Linked DNA regions of Homo sapiens: regions 2, 3 and 4 are each linked to region 1. Evidence: fine-mapped expression QTL. A gene starts in region 1. Each other region holds a variant in brackets. All regions are shown on one strand. Distances are from middle to middle. Region 1 holds the start of TAS2R5 (taste 2 receptor member 5). Region 2 has its middle 5.3 kb from the start of TAS2R3. Region 3 overlaps MGAM2 (maltase-glucoamylase 2 (putative)). Region 4 overlaps WEE2 (WEE2 oocyte meiosis inhibiting kinase).

The links. PIP is the estimated chance that this variant, and not a neighbour inherited with it, causes the effect.
Region 2: its variant is fine-mapped to the expression of TAS2R5 in whole blood (TOPMed, PIP above 0.99).
Region 3: its variant is fine-mapped to the expression of TAS2R5 in nucleus accumbens (GTEx, PIP above 0.99).
Region 4: its variant is fine-mapped to the expression of TAS2R5 in spleen (GTEx, PIP 0.98).

Annotation. Positions count from the first base shown.
Region 1 is chr7:141,787,107-141,792,311 of GRCh38, reverse strand. TAS2R5 (taste 2 receptor member 5) reads right to left here and starts at 2,095. Exons shown (of 1, transcript NM_018980.3): 1 at 945-2,095. The coding sequence starts at 1,950. The coding sequence ends at 1,051. It also overlaps the pseudogene TAS2R6P.
Region 2 is chr7:141,756,178-141,761,382 of GRCh38, reverse strand. No RefSeq gene overlaps it. Among named protein-coding and RNA genes, the nearest start is that of TAS2R3, 5.3 kb to the left of the region's middle. The variant G/T (reference allele first, on the strand shown) is at 2,762.
Region 3 is chr7:142,152,333-142,157,332 of GRCh38, reverse strand. It overlaps MGAM2 (maltase-glucoamylase 2 (putative)), which reads right to left. Exons shown (of 48, transcript NM_001293626.2): 16 at 3,144-3,315; 17 at 2,488-2,604. Among named protein-coding and RNA genes, the nearest start is that of MGAM2, 43 kb to the right of the region's middle. The variant T/C (reference allele first, on the strand shown) is at 2,594.
Region 4 is chr7:141,713,515-141,718,719 of GRCh38, reverse strand. It overlaps WEE2 (WEE2 oocyte meiosis inhibiting kinase), which reads right to left. Exons shown (of 12, transcript NM_001105558.1): 2 at 4,315-4,511; 3 at 2,453-2,498. The region is part of intron 3 of WEE2-AS1 (WEE2 antisense RNA 1); the gene reads left to right. Among named protein-coding and RNA genes, the nearest start is that of WEE2, 7.8 kb to the right of the region's middle. RefSeq lists a silencer at 3,405-3,605. The variant G/A (reference allele first, on the strand shown) is at 2,084.

The DNA.
Region 1 (5,205 bases):
TTGAGACGGCATCTCGCTCTGTTGCCCAGGCTGGAGTGCAGTGGCATGGTCTCGGCTCACTGCCATCTCCACCTCCTGGGTTCATGCCATTCTCCCGCCTCAGCCTCCCGAGTAGCTGGGACTACAGGTGCCCGCCAACACACCAGGCTAATTTTTTGTATTTTTAGTAGAGATGGGGTTTAATCATGTTAGCCAGGATGGTCTTGATCTCTTTTTTTTTTTTTTTTTGAGACGGAGTCCCGCTCTGTCGCCCAGGCCGGACTGCGGACTGCAGTGGCGCAATCTCGGCTCACTGCAAGCTCCGCTTCCCGGGTTCACGCCATTCTCCTGCCTCAGCCTCCCGAGTAGCTGGGACTACAGGCGCCCGCCACCGCGCCCGGCTAATTTGGTCTTGATCTCTTGACCTCGTGATCCGCCCGCCTCAGCCTCCCAAAGCGCTGGGATTACAGGCGTGAGCCTGATTTTTATTCTGAAAGCCAAGGCTAGGGCTCAAAGAAACTTCCAGAAATATAAAGATGTTTTGTTTTGTTTTTCAGTTAGATAATTAGATACATTACAGCAGAGAAATGGGGAAATTATTTGATACTTTTTAAAAAGCATATCTAAAATGACTAACATTAATGTATAGGTAAAATTTCATAAAAATTAATGATCACTATAATTGTTCCTAATCTCTGTTTTCTATACTAGGAAAAACACAATTTATATATGAATTTTTGCTATATGTAGACAGAATTGTTCCTAATCTCTGCTTTTTATAATAGGAAAAACACGATTTATATATGAATTATTTGCTATATGTAGAGAGAATATAATACCTCTTTTACCAAACATGAAGCCCTAGCCTTGATTTCTGTGGTACATTAAAAAAATATACTTTGCATTGCCAAAAGAGACATAGTATTGGGTTTTGATCCGTATTTTCTGTTGCTCATTCATTACATTGGTGTAAAAGAAGGAAAATCTTAAAAGACATGGAAAGCAGCTCCCTTATAGAGAGCTATCAAAAGAGCGTCCCAAGAGTGTCCTGACCACACTTTTCTTCCCAGATCATGGGCCCCAGCATCTCCGAGCACACACTGTCTTCCACAGGATCTTCTGACAAGTCTGCTTCACCCTAGGAATCCCCATGATCAATATGAGAGAATGAAGAGAAGGATAGGCTGCCATGAGTGTCTCCCAGATGAAGACACTGGTGAGATCAGGAGGATAAGTCTTGGAGGTGATGGAGAAGGGGCTGGCCATGATATAAACCAGGTGAAGTAAGAGGAAGCAGCCCAAGGACTTCAGCGCAGTGATGTGAGCCTTGGCCCGGACATCCCTCCTACCAGCTGAATGGACCTTCATCTTCTTGTGGTGTGTATACAAAGAGACAATCAGCATCCCAGAGGAAACAAGAAACACCACTAAAGGCAAATAACTTCCTGAATTGAGCTGAAATGCATACAGGTACTGCCAGCTTTCAAAGGGATACCGAATGCTGCTGTTTCCTTGGGGAGGATGATAGAATGTTAAGCCAATTTGGACTGTAAGTAACAAATTGATTATAAAGTAGCCCAGAAGGCACCAGAGACTCAGGTTATAGGCCCTCTGCTTCAGCCACAAGTAGGCCGGGCGATCGAAGGTCGTGATCTTCTTGCAATAGAAGACACTGAGGAAGGTGGCAAACCATAAGCTGGCCTGGCTTACCAGGACCCAGAAGATACTAAGATAGCGAAGCCAACGGCTGCTCTGGAAAAGTGGAAACAAGCTTAAGTCCAAAATGATCAGCCACTGCAGGAGAAATCGGCAGCCAGCCAGGCCCAGGATAATGAGGTTATATGAGGACCAGTTGAATTTTCTGATCCATTCTCTAAAACTCCAGACCACCAGGCTTCCATTTCCAATTAAACCGATGAGAAATTCAACCACTGCCACCAGCATCAGCAGTCCTAGGCCAGCGCTCAGCATGGCTGGGGAGAGGAGGCTCTCACTGCTCCTGGCTGAGGTCAGATCCCCTGGTAGTGATAACACACCAGGGTAAATTTTCACACCACAAAATCTGGATTTGGCCTCGTCCTTCCGTAATCTGTCTTCAAGCGAGACTGAACAGCTGTGATGAGGAACAGAGAGGTTGGAAGTTATGATACCATCTGTATTTGCATCTACATGAATGAACCCTGAGTGTAGAACCAGAGATTGCAAACAGTACCACAGACACCGGCTCTCCATCTCAAAGGTTTTGGGCCAAAGTCTAGACACCAGGGTATAACGTAACAAGGCCCCTCAACAAGAAAGACCAAATCAAAACATGCTCAGGTGCTATACAGTGCCAGTTATGAGCTCATATGCTATATAAAAAAAGAAATTTTATTTTCATGAAAAGAACACTGGGCCAGGCATGGTGGCTCACACCTGTAATCCCAACACTTTGAGAGGCCAAGGCGGGTGGATCACCTGAAGCCAGGAGTTCGAGACCACCCTGGCCAACATGGTGAAGCCCCATCTCTACTAAAAATACAAAAATTATCTGGGCGTGGTGGTGGCTGCCTGTAGTCCCAGCTACTCGGGAGGCTGAGGCAGGAGAACCACTTGAACCCAGGAGATGGAAGCTGCAGTGGGCCAAGATCGCGCCACTGCACTCCAGCCTGGGCGACAGAGCAAGACTCCATCTCAAAAAAAAAAAGTAAGCATGCTGAGAACTCTCTACGAAGCTGTAGGCAGGCAGGCCACTGCCCGTCTCTGGGCCTCAGTTGCTCTATTAATAACTGAATGGATTGTAGGATGAGATTTCCATTCCTTCGGACTAAATTTACAAAGTGCTTATTTTGTGTCAAACTACGGTGTACTAGGCACAGGGGACGGCGCCATTATAATACACAGTCCCTGCCTCCAGGTAGCATCCATTGTACATCATCTCCACCAAGCTGCAAGGCCTGGTACTCTAAAACTCTGGCTGTAGGCTATGGAGGGGCAGAGGTGGTCGCGATCTTCTACTGGACTAAAAATCTAGATGAGGCTTGAACTCGTCCAAAAACAGTGTTTCTTCAGTGACTTTCTGATAGAGACATAGTGCCTCTCTCTCCCCACCTGCCCCAATCTAGCCTGGCAGTGGAATTTGCCACCGATCCTGGTAGCCAACTGACACGTTTCCAGAAAGCTAGTCTGGCATCAAAAAAACCAAAGTATCCAGAAATATAAAGGTAGGTTTTTGACTACTTTACTACCGGTGTTGAGAGGCTAAACTACATAGAAAATTGAGATAATAATTTAGCTAATTCCCCTAAGAAAAGTGCTTGCCTAAAAAATATACAGGCTCACCTCTTTTTAAAATATATTATTTTCAAACTATAGCTATTTTCTACTTCCTTTTATCAAAAACATAGCATATTGGCAAAGAAAACTTGATTATCTGCAGTAATTTTTAAAAATGTGATACTTCCCATGCAAAATATGAAAACTCGGTTTTGACTTCTGTAGTTTATTAAAATGATGTGATTTGCATTGCTTAGAGAGCAATAAGCTCCAGTTTCTAGCCTGTTTTTCATGTTACCCTTTCATTTTGTTTCAAAATCAAAGAAGAAATGAGGAGAATTGAGAATAAAAATTTCATTTTTCTAAAATCTACAGTTATTTTTACTGTTGTCAGTGATACAGTTAAGGGCCTGATTAGATCCTTCTTCCAAGTCATGGCCTCTAGGATTTCCATGTACATATCATCTCCTACAGAATTCTCTGACAAGTCTGATTCCTCATAACCATTACAATAGACGGAAATGAAGTATAAACAGCCATGAGTGTTGCAGAGATGGCAAGAATGGTGAGATCAGAGGGAGATTAGAAGGTCATGGAAAAGTGTCTGGCCAAGGCAGAAACCATGTAAAGGGGGAAGTTCAGAGCGATGAGCACCTTGGTTTGAGCCTCCTCCTGACAGCTGTGTGGTCCTCCATCTTCCTGTGATGTCTTTACAAAAAGACAAGTGGAACAGAAACATCACAAATAGCAATCAGTCTCCTTCACTGGACAGCAATCTATAAAAATAACAGATTTAAAATGGGATGCAGGATGTTGCTGTTTCCTGTTAAGGGTTTTTAAAGGGTCCAGCCAACAAGAGCTGAGAAATAAAAAGTGATCTTGAAAGACACTAGCAAAAAACAAAAACCCAGTCTTTTCAGCTACAAGAAGTCAGCGGGACAAAGGTCATGATCTCCATGCAGCAGAAGCCACTGAAGAAAGTGGCAAACTACATGTTGGCCTGGCTTACCAGGACTCGAAGACATTAAGATAGTAAAGCCAACCACTGCTCTGGGAAAGTGGAAACAGACTTATGTCCAACATGATCGGCCTGAGTAGGAGAAAGTGGCTACTTACCAGAATCATGAGAATTTATAGGGACTCCTTACATTTTTTTGACCCATCCTCTAAAACTGCAGACCACAGGGACTCCATTTCCAACCAGGCCAATGAGAAATTCAGCCCCTGCAATGGGCATCAGCAATCCTAGGGCAGCCGCCAACATGGCTGGGGAGGGGAGGGTCTCTCTGCTGAATCAGGAGGTGCCCTGCTTCAGTGCTGATGAACACGTACTGCTGCTGGCTGTGTCAGAATCCCTGGGGACGGTATCAGTATTATGGCAGAGCATTTCACTTCTCACCACTCAGTTTTGTTACTGTCTGAAATCCCTTCTCTGGTAAAGATGTTACAGCTGTGACCAGAAGAAACGTTCTTGAAGGTAACGGTCCCACCGTCACTTACATCTACCTGACACTGGCCTGGGATCTGACATTAGGTACAGAGACACAATTACAGAATGGCCTTCCGAAGGAAAGAACTAAAATCCAGACAGCCTAGAGCACAGTCTCCTGAAATCCTACTTCCACCCGACCTAACTCCACAAAACCTAAGTAAGACAGTCTGAGAATTTAACAGTGGCAAATGCAAGGTACCTCATGTTATAAAAAGGGAAAGCATGGGCCGGGCGCGGTGGCTCACGCCTATAATCCCAGCACTTCGGGAGGCCGAGGCGGGTGGATCACTTGAGGTTAGAAATTCGAGACCAGCCTGGCCAACATGGTGAAACCCCATCTCTACTGAAAATACAAAAATTAGCCGGGCATGGTGGCACACACCTGTAGTCCCAGCTACTCAGGAGGCTGAGGCAGGAGAATCACTTGAACCCGAGAGGTGGAGATTGCAGTGAGCCGAGATCATGCCATTGCACTCTAG
Region 2 (5,205 bases), 31 kb after region 1:
AGAGCCTAGCACAGGGTCCAGCACAAAATTGGTACACAATTACTATTTGTCAAATCAACTTGAATCCCAAACGCCCCTCAAGTCACCTCTCATCCCCATTCTTGCTAACCTTTCTAGGCTTATTAGAGCTTCCTAACTGCCTCTAGGCTTTCTCCTTCTAGCCCTTCACTCTGTCTTTGTTGTTCTCCTAACGCACAATTCTGATAAGATGTCCTTGTTTTCAAACCTTCTATTGCTCCCCATTGCCAAAGTTCTCTGAAAGCTTTCAAGGCCCTTTACTATCTAGCCCCAACCCACTTTCCATGCCTCACCTTTGTTTCATAAACTTTTGTTTCTGGATCTTTGCTCATGCTGTTTCCTCTGCTGAAAGCTCACCTATCCATTCTCTTCTAAGCTACTCCTCACACCCTATCACAGTTAGCTATAAAAGTTTCTGCTTATCCTCCCTAACCCCTCATAAGCTTAATTGTGAATTCCTTCAGTGCAGGAATCCTGTTATATACATCCCTACATTCAGGTCCTATATGGGTGCATGATATATAGAAGATGCCCAACTGAACCTTATATTTAAGAGAAGGAGAGCATAATGGTTTGGAAAATGTGCAGCCTGACCATGTGGTAGAAAAGAAAAACCAACTTTCTGAGGAGGAATTCAAGCTGGCTGAAGAAATTTGCATAAGTAACAAGGAGCCGAATGTTAATAGTCAAGACAATGGGGAAAATGTCTCTAGGGCATGTCAAAGACCTTCTTGGCAGCCCCTCCTATCACAGGCCCAGAGGTCTTGGAGAGAAAAATGGTTTCCTGGGCCAGACCCAGGGCCCAACTGCTCTGTGCAACCTCGGGACTTGGTTCCATGCATCCCAGTGGATCCAGCACCAGCCACGGCTAAAAGGAGCCCTCAAGGAGAACTTCTGCTATGGCAGTGTGGAAGGAAAATGTGGAGTTGTAGCCCCTGCACAGGGTCCCCACTGGGGCATTGCCTAGTGGAGCTGTGAGAAGGGGGCACCCATCCTCCAGACCCCAGAAAGGTAGATACACTGACAGCTTGCACCAAGTGCCTAGAAATGCTGCAGGCATTCAACACCAGCCCATGAAAGTGGACACAGGGGCTGTACCTTGCTGAGCCACAGGAACGCAGGGGCAGCTGCCCAAGACCAAGATTGTTGGAGCCCACCTCTTGCATCAGCATGCCCTGGGGTGGCCTACATGTGAGACGTGGAATCAAAGGAGATGATTTCAGAGCTTTAAGATTTAACGACTGCTCTGCCGGGTTTTCAGACCTGCATGAGGCCTGTAGCCCCTTTATTTTGGTCAATTTCTCCCATTTGGACTGGAAACATTTGCCCAATGCCTGTACCCTCATGGTATCTTAGAAGTAACTAATTTTATTTTACAGGCTCATAGGTGGAAGGGACTTGGCTTGTCTTAGATGAGACTTCGGACTTGGACTTTTGAGTTAATGCTGGAATGAGTTAAGACTTTGGGGGACTGTTGAGAAGGTATGATTGGTTTTTAAATGTGAAAAGGACATGAGATTTGGGAGGGGCTGGGGCAGGATGATATGGTTTGGTTATGTCCCCACCCAAATCTCATCTCAAATTGTAATCCCCACGTGTCAAGGTAGGGACCTGGTAGGTGACTGGATCATGGGGGTGGTTTCCCCTGTGCTGTTGTCCTGATAGTGAGGGAATTCTCCCCAGATCTGATGGTTTTAAAAGTAGCAGTTTCCCCTGTGCCCTCTCTCTCCTGCTGCCTTGTGAAGAAGGTGCCTGCTTCCCCTTCACCTTTTGCCACGACCATAAATTTCCTGAAGCCTCCCCAGCCATGCGGAACTGTGAGTTAATTAAACCTCTCGTTTATAAATTACCCAGTCTCACGTAGTATCTTCATAGCAGTGTGAAAACAGACAAATACAGTTGGTTGCGGGAATCTGTGGATACGGAGGGCCAGTGGAGAATGAATGCAAGTGGAGGCAGGCATTGGGCAGAAAGCAAAATGCAAACTTCACATACCTGAGTTCAACCTCCAGGTGTGCATCCTGGAAGATGCATGACTTTGACAAGTTATTTAACCTCTCCCAGTTTTGGGTTTCCTCACCTGTAAAATGGGATTATTGTACCTTCTTCTTAGGATAATGGCTAAATGAGACAATGATAAAAAGTACTTAGCTTAGCTCGGTACATAGTAACCAGAAGAGAAATGACAGTCATTAATATGATTATTGTTACATCTTTAAGAGATTTCCCTGTAATTCATTAACCTTGGACTTGCCTCTCATTTTCCACAACGATTTTCTTGCTGTTACTCCCACAAATCTTCACAGAATATTATGCAAACTCTAACAGAAAAATAGCAAGGTGATCCTGCCCTCATTTTCTTTTCAAGTCCCACCTAACCGAATGACAAACATTTATCAATCTCCATGTCACTGTGTGAGGCTGAGTTAGATTGGGGAAAAAGGGTGGTTTTAGTAAAAGAAAACCCTGCCTTCAAGAATTGCCATGATCTCATTAGGGAACAAAGGGAAAACAGCACTAATTTCTCCTAACTTGGCTGCAAAAGTTAGGCTGTAATCCACATTGCAATGACAAGTAATTCCTAAAGAAATGTATACTCTATTGCCAAAACTGCCACAGAAATATATCTTTGGTGTTTTTGGATCATCTTTGAATAAAATGTCCAGTGTGTTTTAAGAAATGATTGATTCTTTGAGAACTGTAAAGGCAGCAAACAGTAGATCTCATATAGGTTGGTTTTTTT[G/T]TTTGTTTGTTCGTTTTGTTTTTGAGATGGAGTCTGGCTCTGCCGCCCAGGCTGGAGTACAGTGGTGTGATCTCGGCTCACTGCAAGCTCCGCCTCCTGGGTTCATGCCATTCTCCCACCTCAGCCTCCCCAGTAGCTGGGACTACAGGCGCCCACCACCACACCCAGCTAATTTTTTGTATTTTCAGTAGAGACGGGGTTTCACCATGTTAGCCAGGATGGTCTCGATCTCCCGACCTCGTGATCCACCCGCCTTGGCCTCCCAAAGTGCTGGGATTACAGGCATGAGCCACTGCGCCTGGCTAGGTTGGTATTCAAAGTAAATCATTTTGGGCTGTGTACACGTATTAACAGATGAATGAATTATAAAAGCATGAGATGCTAAAATACAGATAGTGGGGGAAAATATATAAAAGATTTTCTCATTCATATCCAGTAAAGTGGTACTCACTAAAAGTGAATGAGTAAATTAGTCTGGCTCAGAAATAATGGAAAGGTTTTTTTCCCCAGATAAAAAGTTTTATTTTTTTATTATAAAAGTAATATATGTTCAATGCTAAAATATATATTTAAAAAACTGTAAAGAAACAAGGAAAATCACGCATAATCACCCTCTCTAGAGATAATAACATCCTCATGTTTCTCCCTCCAGACATTAAGCCTATCTTCATTACAACTTCTTTTTCAAAAATGGGATACCCCAGACATACTGTTTGAAACTTTTTCTCCCATTCTTCTAGGTATACTATTCATCTTACCATTTAACAGGAAACTCCAAATCGAGGTCACAGTGCAGTTTTCTGAGGTTTATTCCCTGACACTATCACATCAAAAAGGGAAATGCAAGACCCAAAACTTGGGTTAGAAGACCCCTAGTCTTTTACTGCTATTTACTGCTATCATATTTCCAAATGCGCTCTTCCTAGACCAGCTAGGGAGCAGGAGAAAGTTTCTCAGCAGATAGGGCTTCCCAGGGGTAGGCAAAGTTTCCCTAGCAAGTCTGACTGACTTGAGGCGAGAATCATTCTGCTAGAATCATACGCATGCTGAAGACTGCATGCTACACACCTAAGTCTGATAAAGCACCACTGCTTCAGCTCCACAGCCTTTCAGAGGCATGGAGAGAAGAGGCAACCTCCAGGGGAGAGTTTAAAGCAGAGCCCCTCGGCTCACAATGATCCAGCACAGCATCCTCTTCCACCCCTGCATTCAGGGCTGAGAAACTGCTCCAGGTTGGTAATTAAGCTCTTCTGTTCACCATGTCATTTTCCCAAAGCAGAGATTTATTACCCTGCTTAAACAGGACTGTTAATCTGCATAATTTCTCACAACACTTAAGGAGTATAAAAGCTGCTGTGCTGATAGAAGAAAGAGTTGCTAAAAAGATAAATTTTATATACTGCCCAATTTTGCTTAAGGAATGTGGCATGAAGGAATAAAGACTACATCACCAGGCAGTTTTAATGTGTGAACTTAAGAGAGCAGAGTTAATATGCTGATTAACTGTCCCAGCTGCAGGAAAAAGAAAGATGGCTGGCAGGAGAAAACAGCAATGAATTTTCTACTGTTCCTGAGCAAGGAGAGGATAAAGCTAAAAAATTCCATCTTTCCTCAACCAAAATGCATTGTAGGTATAAAAAAAGCTACTCAAGTGTGCAGAAAATACCTTAAAACAAAAAAGTCACAGACCTATAACATAGCTTGGGAATTCTGAACCTAATAAAGTCCAATATGACCTAAGCTACAGTTAGCACTGTACTCGTACTCTCAGGCAGAGAGGACAGAACATGTAGGCTGGGAAGCAAATATATAGGCTGGGTCAGAGGCCAAACTGGAGACAGAGTGGCCTAGACAGTACGAGAGACTTCTACCATTTGAACAAAACAACCTGCACAGTGGCAGCCAACCTCTGGGATACAGCAGCAAACTGGCAGGCAGACCTCGGGAGGGCTGATGTAAACTTTAAAGAGCAAAAGATGCACTGAAAAACTGAGTTACTATTTCATCTTTATTGGCAAATTATTAGTATTCTAAAATTTCCTGAATCTTGTAATAAAAAGTAAGATTACATGATGTACATAATGATTCATGTGGAAAAATAAAAGGAAAATGTAGGACCTAAGGCTCTAAGGGAGGCACTGACAGAGGTTGTTAAGAGGATCCTCTTCTACCTTCCCCAAGAGTTCTGAAGAAGACTCTAAAAGGATAGATAAGAGGGGCAGAGAAAGATAGAATAGAACCACAGCTCCTGTGGCATCACCTGGAGATGAACGATTTCATCTCTAGTTATATTTCAGGTCCTTATTGCTGGTAAACTATGTTTCATCAATGCTAGTAATGAAACTGTCCAAAAACAAAAGATATGAAGAAGGTAGGTTAGTCTTAAAGATGTTTAGGTTAGACACTAACCACTGCTCAGCAACCCCCTTCAATTTGAACTGAAG
Region 3 (5,000 bases), 370 kb before region 1:
GGTTGCCATGGAGATAAAGTGGGACTTGCTCCCTCCAGGGTTGCTCCAATTTATTTTACATATTGAGGTTTCTCATATTTTATTTGGGAAATAATATAAGTTGTACTACTACTAAAAAAAAATCCATTGCCTTATAAGCCACATTGCCTGCCACCATGGTCTGTAATCCATCATTTCCTTTCCATGTGCTTGTATGAATTTTAATTTTAACATTTTTTGTCCAGTTTTATCTGTAATGTTTCCACCATCAACATTTGTTTTATTTTCCCTATCCCAAAGATTAGTGACCTCTATTTGTTCTTTGACATACATTGTGCAAATAAATTATGACGATGGTTTTTAGCAGATTTTATCCAAGAGTAAAAAAATAACCCATTAGAAGAAAAATCTAATTTTCCATGGACCCAGAGATGAAAATTTTCCGTCAATGGTCGGCATTCATTTTGTTCATTTTCCATATAATTTGGAAGATGTGAAAGACATACACGTCATCTTTTGACTTGTCATCCTATACTGCGTTACTGAGACTGAGTTTTGGATAAAGTTACCTGAACTTTTTTTTCTTTTGCTCCCTAAGAGGCCCATTTCTCCCCCTCTAAATAGAATGACTCCATGAGACCACTCTATGCACCCAGTGTAGGGCTCATGAAAACTCTGAGGCCAAACATTAAAGAGAGTAACACTCCACAGCCTCCATCACCCTGGTTGTCAACTGACAAAAGCCCAGAGCTGTGCTGTCCACTATGGTGGCCATGAACCACATGAAGCTATTGAACACTTGAACTATGTTTATTGAGACTGAGGAAGTAAACTTTCCATTTTATTTGATGATAGTTACTTTAAATATAAATCTTAAAACTGAATCAACGTAAATTTTTTTTCCATTAAACCAACTTTATTGCTTTGGTAGAATTGCATTTTACTTCAACTGCATACAAAAAATCTTAGCATACAAATTGCGATATGCTACAAGTGTAAAATGCATACCAAATTTTGAAGACCTAGTAGAATGAAAAGGATATAAAATAGCTCATTAATAATATTTTGTATTAAACACAGGTTGAAATGATAATGCTATGTAATATACAGACACACACACACATATAGATACACATTGAGCTATATAAAGTATTTTTAAAACAATGTCCCTGTTTCTTTGTACTTTGTTTTTTTTTTTGTTTTGTTTTGAGACGGAATTTTGCTCTCGTTGCCCAGGCTGAAGTGCAATGGCGCGATCCCAGCACACCACAACCTCTGCCTCCCCGGTTCAAGAGATTCTCCTGCCTCAGCCTCCCAAGTAGCTGGGATTACAGGCATGCGCCACCACACCCAGCTAATTTTGTATTTTTAGTAGAGATAGAGTTTCTCCATGTTGGTCAGGCTGGTCTCAAACTCCGGACCTCAGGTGATCCTCCCACCTTGGCCTCCCAAAGTGCTGGGATTACAGGTGTGAGCCACCGTGCCCAGCCTTTTTGTACTTTTCAAATTTAAACTGACATATGTGGCTCTCCTTATAATTTTATTGAATAGAGCTAGTTTAATCAAAAGGACATACGTGCTTAAACCTAGCTTCCTGGGTTATCTGAGTGTTCTTACCTATGTAAGTCTTCCAGGACACAGCTTCATGAAGAGCACCCACCCACCTGCTCCCAGCCACCTGCTTAAGACATTTAGAAATAGTTCATCTCTCTCTAGATCACAAGTGGCCAGAAAAGCCCAGGGATAAAATACTTTGAAGGTTTGACTGTTAATCCTTCCTGGGTTAAAGACAAAGTCAAGAATTGGAGCTAAAATTATCATTAGGAAGTTATTCTAATGAACCTATTAAGAGCTAAACCACTCAATTGGAAATATTTCAACTTAAGATTACTTTATTAAAAGAAAGGACATCTCACCCTACTTGCTTCTGCTACCATCATAAACACCTCCTTAGGGGGGACTTTGAACCCACTTCCATGTACTTGCCCATCGAAAATACTATTTTGGGTAGACGAGCCTAAAGGTGGAATGAGTCATGAGAAGTAGTTGGCAAGTCCTCCAAACTCTTCATAGAAAGGTAGAATGTTGTAACAAGGGGAAAGAAATGTTGAGATCACTGGCCTAAGCCTCTTTAAATTCTTTCTCCTTGTTCCTCCATACCTATGAGGGATTTCCCTTGTATTAACTGAAATAAAATACCAACAAATTCCAATTGTCCTATCCTATATAGGATAGAACAGAAGTCATGGCAGCACCATAGAAACTTTAACAAATCTTCTCACTTTGTTGGTGAGTTTCCAAGAATAAAATCTTTCAGTATATACATATCCCTTCCAATGCACCCTCACCTTGATTGATACCCTGCTTTTTAAGGCTATGATACAAGACTTTTTTATCCTTCTGCTGCAGTTAGTGCCAACCTGTAGTACTATTTTCCTCAAATCCCCTTTAAGAGCCAGTAGATTAGCTAATCCAAAAAGTTTCCATCACTTCTTTTGGTGACCTTACCCTGAACCCAGGCCCATTGTGATTCCTTGGTAGTGGATAAAATGCTCCAAGCTGCATCCACCTTCTGCAGAGCTCCTCTGTGACATTGTTGTTATAACCACAGATG[T/C]TGGCACCTACCTGGAGAATTAGCACACATACAAGCACTGTGGTCAATGAGAGGCGAAAGCATGTAGTGAAGATTTATATGATAAGGGAAAAGAGAACCTCTTTGTCACATCATCCCATGCTTAAGGAGATCCCAGAGTCACAGGGCACACTCCCAGCCAAAGGAGAGAAACAAGATAGAATCCATCACGGACTTACTGATAGTGCAAACAATGGTCCTTGTGTTGAGGCTGTTCCTTAATATTCAGTTCCCAATTTCATACTTTCTTATTTACTAATGCTCTCTTGATGGAATTTTCCTGTGATACTAATACATTTTATTCATGCTGTCTCCTTCCTATCTTCAGAGATTCCATGGATGACAACTCAGTGATAAAGTACTACCATTCTATCTTCAGAAGGCAGCTCACGTAACACATAAAAATTGATCTTTCCAATACATATCACCTTGGAACATGATCCTTGGTTTTTCAGATAATCTCTAAGACTGCTAATTAAAAGAATGTCAACAGACAAAGGGTTAAAGTTCCCTGGTTGGAAATAAGGCTCACCATGGGGATGCCAAACAGGTTGAACTCAAGGATAGTGGGGATAGACCATCGGAGGTCATCCCATGTGGCCGCATTGTCCCCCAGCCAATGAGCAGCAAATTTGCCAGATCCAGCAAAAGTAGAACGGGATAAGATGAAGCTCCTATTATTCATGAAGATGGTCTCCAGGGCTCTGGAAAGGAATACATCCAGTGGAGTGTGAGGTGGGCTGTGAATGTCTAGGACTCACCTTACAATAAGAGCAGCAATGGACTTTCTAACCAAACTGAGAAAACAACATGAGGGTGTCATAAACCAGGTGTCATAAACTTAGTACTATCTAAGAGCTTCTTTCCCATTTTGGGGTAAGATTTCAGATCTCATATAAGACAGTACAAACCTCTATATTCTAGCCCCCATAGCAATTTCTCTAGGCTTCCGTTCCCCGATTTTGTTTTCTCTGTCTAGTTGGATCTGGTTGTGGTCTGGTCCTTTTGGTCAACAGTATATTGGAACCATGATTTGAGTTCCTTGTCCCATCTTTTTTCTAATGTCCTTTGGTTCCATGAATTTCTGCCATGCATAATCCTGTACAGCACAGCACCTGCTCCGATGGGAGCTCTGCACCCTCTGCTGGACTAAGAGGAGAGTTCATGCACCAGCTGGTACACCTCTGAAACTTCAGAACTTATCCCTGGCTTCCTCTGAAACTTCAGACTTATTCTTAGCAATTCTCAATGTTAGCAAATTTTAATCTATGCAAAATAAGAGTCATTGAAATGAGTAAGTCTCAAAAGATCGCATCTGATACTTTCTATAAAGTTAAAAACAACTAACATAGAAAATATTATTTTCATTGTATTATAAATAAAATATTACATGTTACGTAAAACAATATAGAAATGAAAGCAGGCCGGGCGCGGTGGCTCACGCCTATAATCCCAGCACTTTGGGAGGCTGAGGCGGGTGGATCACGAGGTCAGGAGATCGAGACCAACCTGGCCAACATGGTGAAACCCCATCTCTACTAAAAATACAGAAGTTAGCTGGACATGGTGGTGTGCGCCTGTAGCTCCAGCTACTCATACTCAGAAGACTGAGGCAGCAGAATCGTTTGAACCCAAGAGGCAGAGGTTGCAGTGAGCCAAGATCGTGCCACTGCACTCCAGCCTGGGCGACAGAGCAAGGCTCTGTCTCAGACAAAAAAAAAAAAAAAAAGGAATAAAAGCAAAGAAATTAAAAGCACAGAATTCAGAATGGTAATTACTTCAGGGGCACAGATGAACATACAGTGGGGTGACCTATGGTTGGATGTGGGCTGTTTGCCTAGCTTTTATTCTGGACACCTTTTGAATAGGCATTTTATTGAAATGACTCTCCTCTTTTCTTTTTTCCCCCCTGTGGTAAAAAGCCCACATCTTCCATTAGAATTATAAAATTGAACAATAATACAATTAAAGGACAGTAAGACCTGAGCCACGCCACAGTTTCTGCCAGCTCTTCGCAGGCAAGCTCTTCTTTCCCGCTTTCTAATACATGGTCTGAGACAAGTGTATCTTTTCCTAAAACCTCTCTCTGCAAGTCTTTATCACCAGGCACCAGGCAATTCCTCAATACACTATCACAGTCACCAAGGCCTCCTCACTTCATTTTCCTGGGAAGTTTGGAGAGTCTATAAATACTGAATGGCTTATAATGGCAAAAGGGAGAAAATTTTGAAACGGAAAACTGCTTTAAGAAAGTAAAGGGCTTCATTCTGACAATTTACTGTCAAAAATAGGGGTAGGTTGGAGGAGAGGACTCACTCAACTCCTATCCCCACTTCTACTTTAATGTAGACTGGCCGACACTTTGCTTTTATTACCACTGGCTGCAGGT
Region 4 (5,205 bases), 74 kb after region 1:
GGTGGAGCAAATTAAAAGAAATGAAAGACCCCCCTTCTTTATGTGTCTTAAAGTCTGAATGCTAATGTTTCCATCTCAAGCTGAATAAGCATACTTGTTTTCTGTTTCTTTTCCCAAAAATACCAGCCTGGAGAAATGATTTTGTCAAAATTGTCAAACTTTGACAATTTTGGTTAGTTCAGACTATGTGCTCAGGTCTAGCAACCACTCCCGCTACTGGCCAACTAGCAACATCATTCATTGCCCAGGTAGTAAATAACCCCAGGCCAATCTGAACTCCTTTCAGTTTTCCTATCTGTAGGATGAAGATCATGGCAACACTCTTCAGGGTTCTTTTAAATATTACATGAGAATATACAGTATTACATATATTGTAATATATCTTAGGATAGTGTCAAGTACATAGTAAATTCTCATTAAACTATTATGACCAAAAATCTCCATAAATTTATATGAATCTAAATCCAAGCTGATTTATCTCCCAAAGTCATCTTTTCTCAGTGTCCCAATCCTGAAGAATTTTTCTCCAACTTTATGAGTTTGAAAAATCTTGGGTTTTACTACTTCCTCATTTTCAACATCTAATTCTGGTCACTTTCATCAGCAAGATCTCTTAATTTTCATTACCCTTAGCCAGTCTCAAGCTCTGTTCCCTTCTTGTCTGGATTGGCTACAGCTACCAGCCCTCTCTTTAACTCTTCTAATAGTAAGAATTATTTTTGCAAAATGATACCACAGAATCAGAGATGCCTAATTGTTTCCCATGAGAAATTCAAACTCTTGATAAGAAAGCCTCAAGACCTTCTACCAACTGCGCACTCACTACTTGACTACCCTCCCCCTAGATACCAATGAAGCCAGTATACCATCTGCATCTATCCCTGACCACTCCCCACCCACCATACCCCTCTTACACCTGAACTCTGTTCTCCTGCCTTGATAGCATTAAAAGTTATTTACTTCCTTAGCCTAAAATTATCTTAATATACAATCTCTTCCTACCCAAGCTCTATTTCATAGAAGTATTTACTAACCACTTCTAGATTTTAAAGATATACACGCATATGTATATTCACATTGCACATATGTACATACACATATACACAAATACATATATCTCATAGCTTCTAATTTACATATAGATTGTTTTGAAATTTCAAAGGTTTTAACTCCTGTTTGGCCAGATGTTTTTCCTTAAAGGGTGTAACTAAATACAATGCTTTGCACTTATTTAATGTTCAATAAATATTAGAATTTCTATCTGAAATCAAGAGATAAATTATAAAATAAGTGAGGAATAAAATCCAACAGTAAAATAATGGAGGCATAAGTCAGAAACATTTGCATTTGAAGGAACACCTGTGCCAGTGGCCGCCTTTTCTGTGATGTTTACAATAGCCAAGTGCTAACATTTTAACATATTAACATATTTATTTACGCAAATAAAACTTGCTTCAGAAAACTTTAAAAATTTAAAGGAAAAACAAATATGAAGTTTCCACCATTCAAAAATGTTGAAATAGCAGTGGTTATAGCTCCATTTCATTCTCCCTGTGATTAATGTGCAATAGATAGTTATGGTCATTCAGCGTATAAAATTTTGAGTCTTTTGCACACTAAACATTAACATACGCATGTTTTCAAGGTGTTATAAACATCTTAATGGCAATTTAGTATTTCACTGACTTAAAACTGTAATTAGCTTAGCCATTTTTCTATTATCAGGCATTTGGTCTCCCCCCTTTTTTGCTGTTACAATAAACATCTCTAAGGATAATGTTTGCAGTATTATTTTCTTAGGTTAGATTATCAAATGAGGGATGGATCAAAGATTGTGAACATTATAAAATCAAATATTGATACATTTAAGAGCTAAAATTTTACATATAAATCTCTGGCTCTATGCCCCTTTTTTCCATTATCTTTTTCTATTTTGAGACCAAAAATATCTTAATTTTCCCTTCACTTCTCTACCCCATGAGTGTAGAGTTTTTCTCCAGATTAAAATAGTAGCAGAAATATGTAATTTTAAAATTACTCTAAAGTAATGATCCAGCATATACATATCAGACACTGCCTGGCA[G/A]AGTTACAACTAGCTGAGAACACAGACCCTGACTAGGGTCCAGATAAATTCAGCTGCAAAGCACATTTACAAAGCTAGCGTGTGAGATGGGGTGAGATGGGGAGGGGAGGAGAGAAGGAGAGTAGGAGAAAGGAGGGGAGGAGGGGAGATGGGGAAGAGAGGGCAGAAGGAGAAGGGCAGAAGGAGAGGGTAGAAGAAGGGGAGGGAGGGTGCAGGGTGAAGGAGAGGAGGGGAGGGTGAGGAAGGAGAAAAGGGAGGGTAGGGAAGAAGGGAGGAGGGAGGAGAGAGAGGGAGAAGGGGAGGGGAAGAAGAGAAAGAATAGGATAAACTGCCTATATTGTGGCCGCTGGGACAAAGAACTACGCTTACCTTGGCAGGCAGCCCTCCCTTGCCTTCCTCTGGACCAGCTTCCTCACTTAAAAAAGAAAAAAAAAGTTTATCAATATATAATTAATATTTATTGAGGCCGAACTATGCTAGGTTCTAGGGATGTAAGAGTAAATAAGACAATTCATTTCTCTTCGGTTTATATGTGGAGGCAGGGATAACCAGGAAATTTCAATACAAGAACCTAGAACTGGATAAGATAACAAGGATACCATGGACAGCACTCAATTATTTCAAGAGTGAAAAGCTTTCCCAGAAGAGAGAATATATAAGCCAAGATTCTGGGAACGAGTAGGAACTAGCTAAGGGAAAAGAGTGAGGTTTTCAGCAGGTAAAACACCATGTGCTGGAGCAAGAGAGCACAGAACATATGTGCAACTGTTAAATGGGTATCTTTATCCCCAAACTAGGAAACCAAGACAGAGAGAGGTTAAATAACTCTAGGTCAAACAATTAGCAAGTGGCAGAACTGGGACTTGGAGCCAGGTCTGACACCAAAGCATTTGCTCCTCACTGCCACACCACACTCTCTTTCCGACACCCACCCCTCCCCTAGAATCTGGCTTTGTAATCGGTTCACAGGTAGACTGCAAGTAGGGCAGAATCTGCTCTAACCCGGGATGAGATATTTTCAATTACTCTTCGATAAGCTAAGTGACCAGCAGACATCCTCTTTGCCATGCATACTTGTATTCTGGATCCTTAAGCAAGATTTCAACTAGCTATAGATTTTTCTTTTGGAGAAACACAAGGTAGAAATGGCAAATGGAAGGCACTACATTCATGGAAATAAATCAATGCTTGGTATTTGTGATTTAGTACCACATTGTAATACTTTATGAAGTGTTTATAAATTATAAAAATAAGGAAAAATACTCTCTTAGAAGCACCAAATGACGCTACAAAAGTGTCAGGATTTCATATTAGCTGTCTTTGTTGCTGGCTTCGGTGAGAGTATAATGATTTACAGAGACTCCTTAAGAACTAAAACCAATCGAATTCTTGGTAGCCAAAGTAGGTGGGTGGACTTGTGCTGAAGTCCTGTTTATTTAAGTAAGAAGGAGATAGTGTTGAGAGAACCTATTCTGGTCAAAGACTGATTAACACATACTCATTGACTCCAAAGAAACAACTTGACATAGCACATTAAATGCTCTGCAAAGTTTACATTGTTAGCTGTCCATTTATTTCGCTGAGTACATATGAACATAAATGACTGCCCCACTTTGGAGGCGATTCCATTCTATAAAAAAGCCTTGGAGAGACATAGTAATGTTCCTGAGTAATATGCACAATCCTTATTTGGATGATTTCTGTCATTCAGGGCCCTTTATGGAATAGTACAGTTTGGCTTTCTATTCTTTAGCAGCTCTGAAAGCAATGCTTTTTTGCTTCAGCCAATCTTCCATCACCCACAGAGAAGTTCAAATCCTTGCTCTATAGCTTTCATCACTAGTCACACAAGACTCAAAGCAGCAACGTACTCTTTGAAGTTTGAGCTACACGTTCCCCAACTGCCAGCCTCATATTAACCAGAGGGGACCCCTTGAATGCAATTCCATAGCCCACTCAACTTCCTAATAGAAGCCAGAGATCTATTGCTTATTCTGTCTTATCCTTTTATAGAGAAAGCATCTACAGTACATATCAGAATGGAAAGATGTTGGAATCTCTGTGATAAAGCAGGTAAAACCAGCATTGATATCTAGGAAGGGGAGAATATGTAAGCATATACATTTCATTCAAATAGAGTTCTCGTTCCTAATCTTACTTTAACACTCACTTCTTACTACTTGACTGTAGTAGGGTCAGTTCTCAAAAGTCATAAGTAATAGAGCACTTACAGATCTCCTCTTATTTTCCTCTTGCCACCAGATTGAAGAAATAATTTTTTATAGGACTCTGGAGTGAAGGGATTAATATTGACCAGAGCCAATGAGGTCATCTCATCCTTGAGGGGAGCAGGTGTGAGCTTCAAATGCTTAGGGCCTCTGGAAGGAAGCTTCCCTGTTGGAGAAATCACCAACCGGCTCAGCATGGTCTGAATGAGGATGACAAAAGGCAAGTCATAATAGCATTAGTAAAGACATTCCTTATCAGTTAGCTAGTTAATATTTGAATCTAAGAATGCTTTTGCTGAAGGGGCCTTAGAAATTATCTGGTTCCATGTGAACTGGTTGCATTGTAACTGCTCCTCTTATGAAAACTATAGAATCCCAGTCTCTACCTCTAGATATTCTGATTCATGAAGTCAACACAGGAATCTGTACTTTAGTCAAGCTCCAACCCCTTCCCCTGGGCAATTCTGTTAGCTAGCTATGAAAACCAGTTGTAGTCCTATCTCCAGTTTTTAAAGACATGGACATTAAGTTTAGACAAATAAAAATGACTATATTCTCAGAGCTTATGCTTTAACTTCCCCTCAATTATTCATCCAAATATTTGTTTGGTGCCTACTATGTAGCAGATGCTGGGTTAGATGCCAAGTGGTACAGAAGTGAATTCTAAATCTTAAGGAATATATAGTTCATTATTCAGCAGTTCATCAGTGTTTCAGAAATAATCACCTTGTAAGGAAAAGATTTCATAGACTATTTAAACATGAAAAAAGTTTTTAATTTCACTTAAAATAAAGCACTAACTGAGAAGTGCTTCATGAAGTGCGGTAATGAGATTGAAAATTAGTACTCTAAGCCCTTAAGATTCAGATCTTTGCAGTGGCTACAACCAGCTAC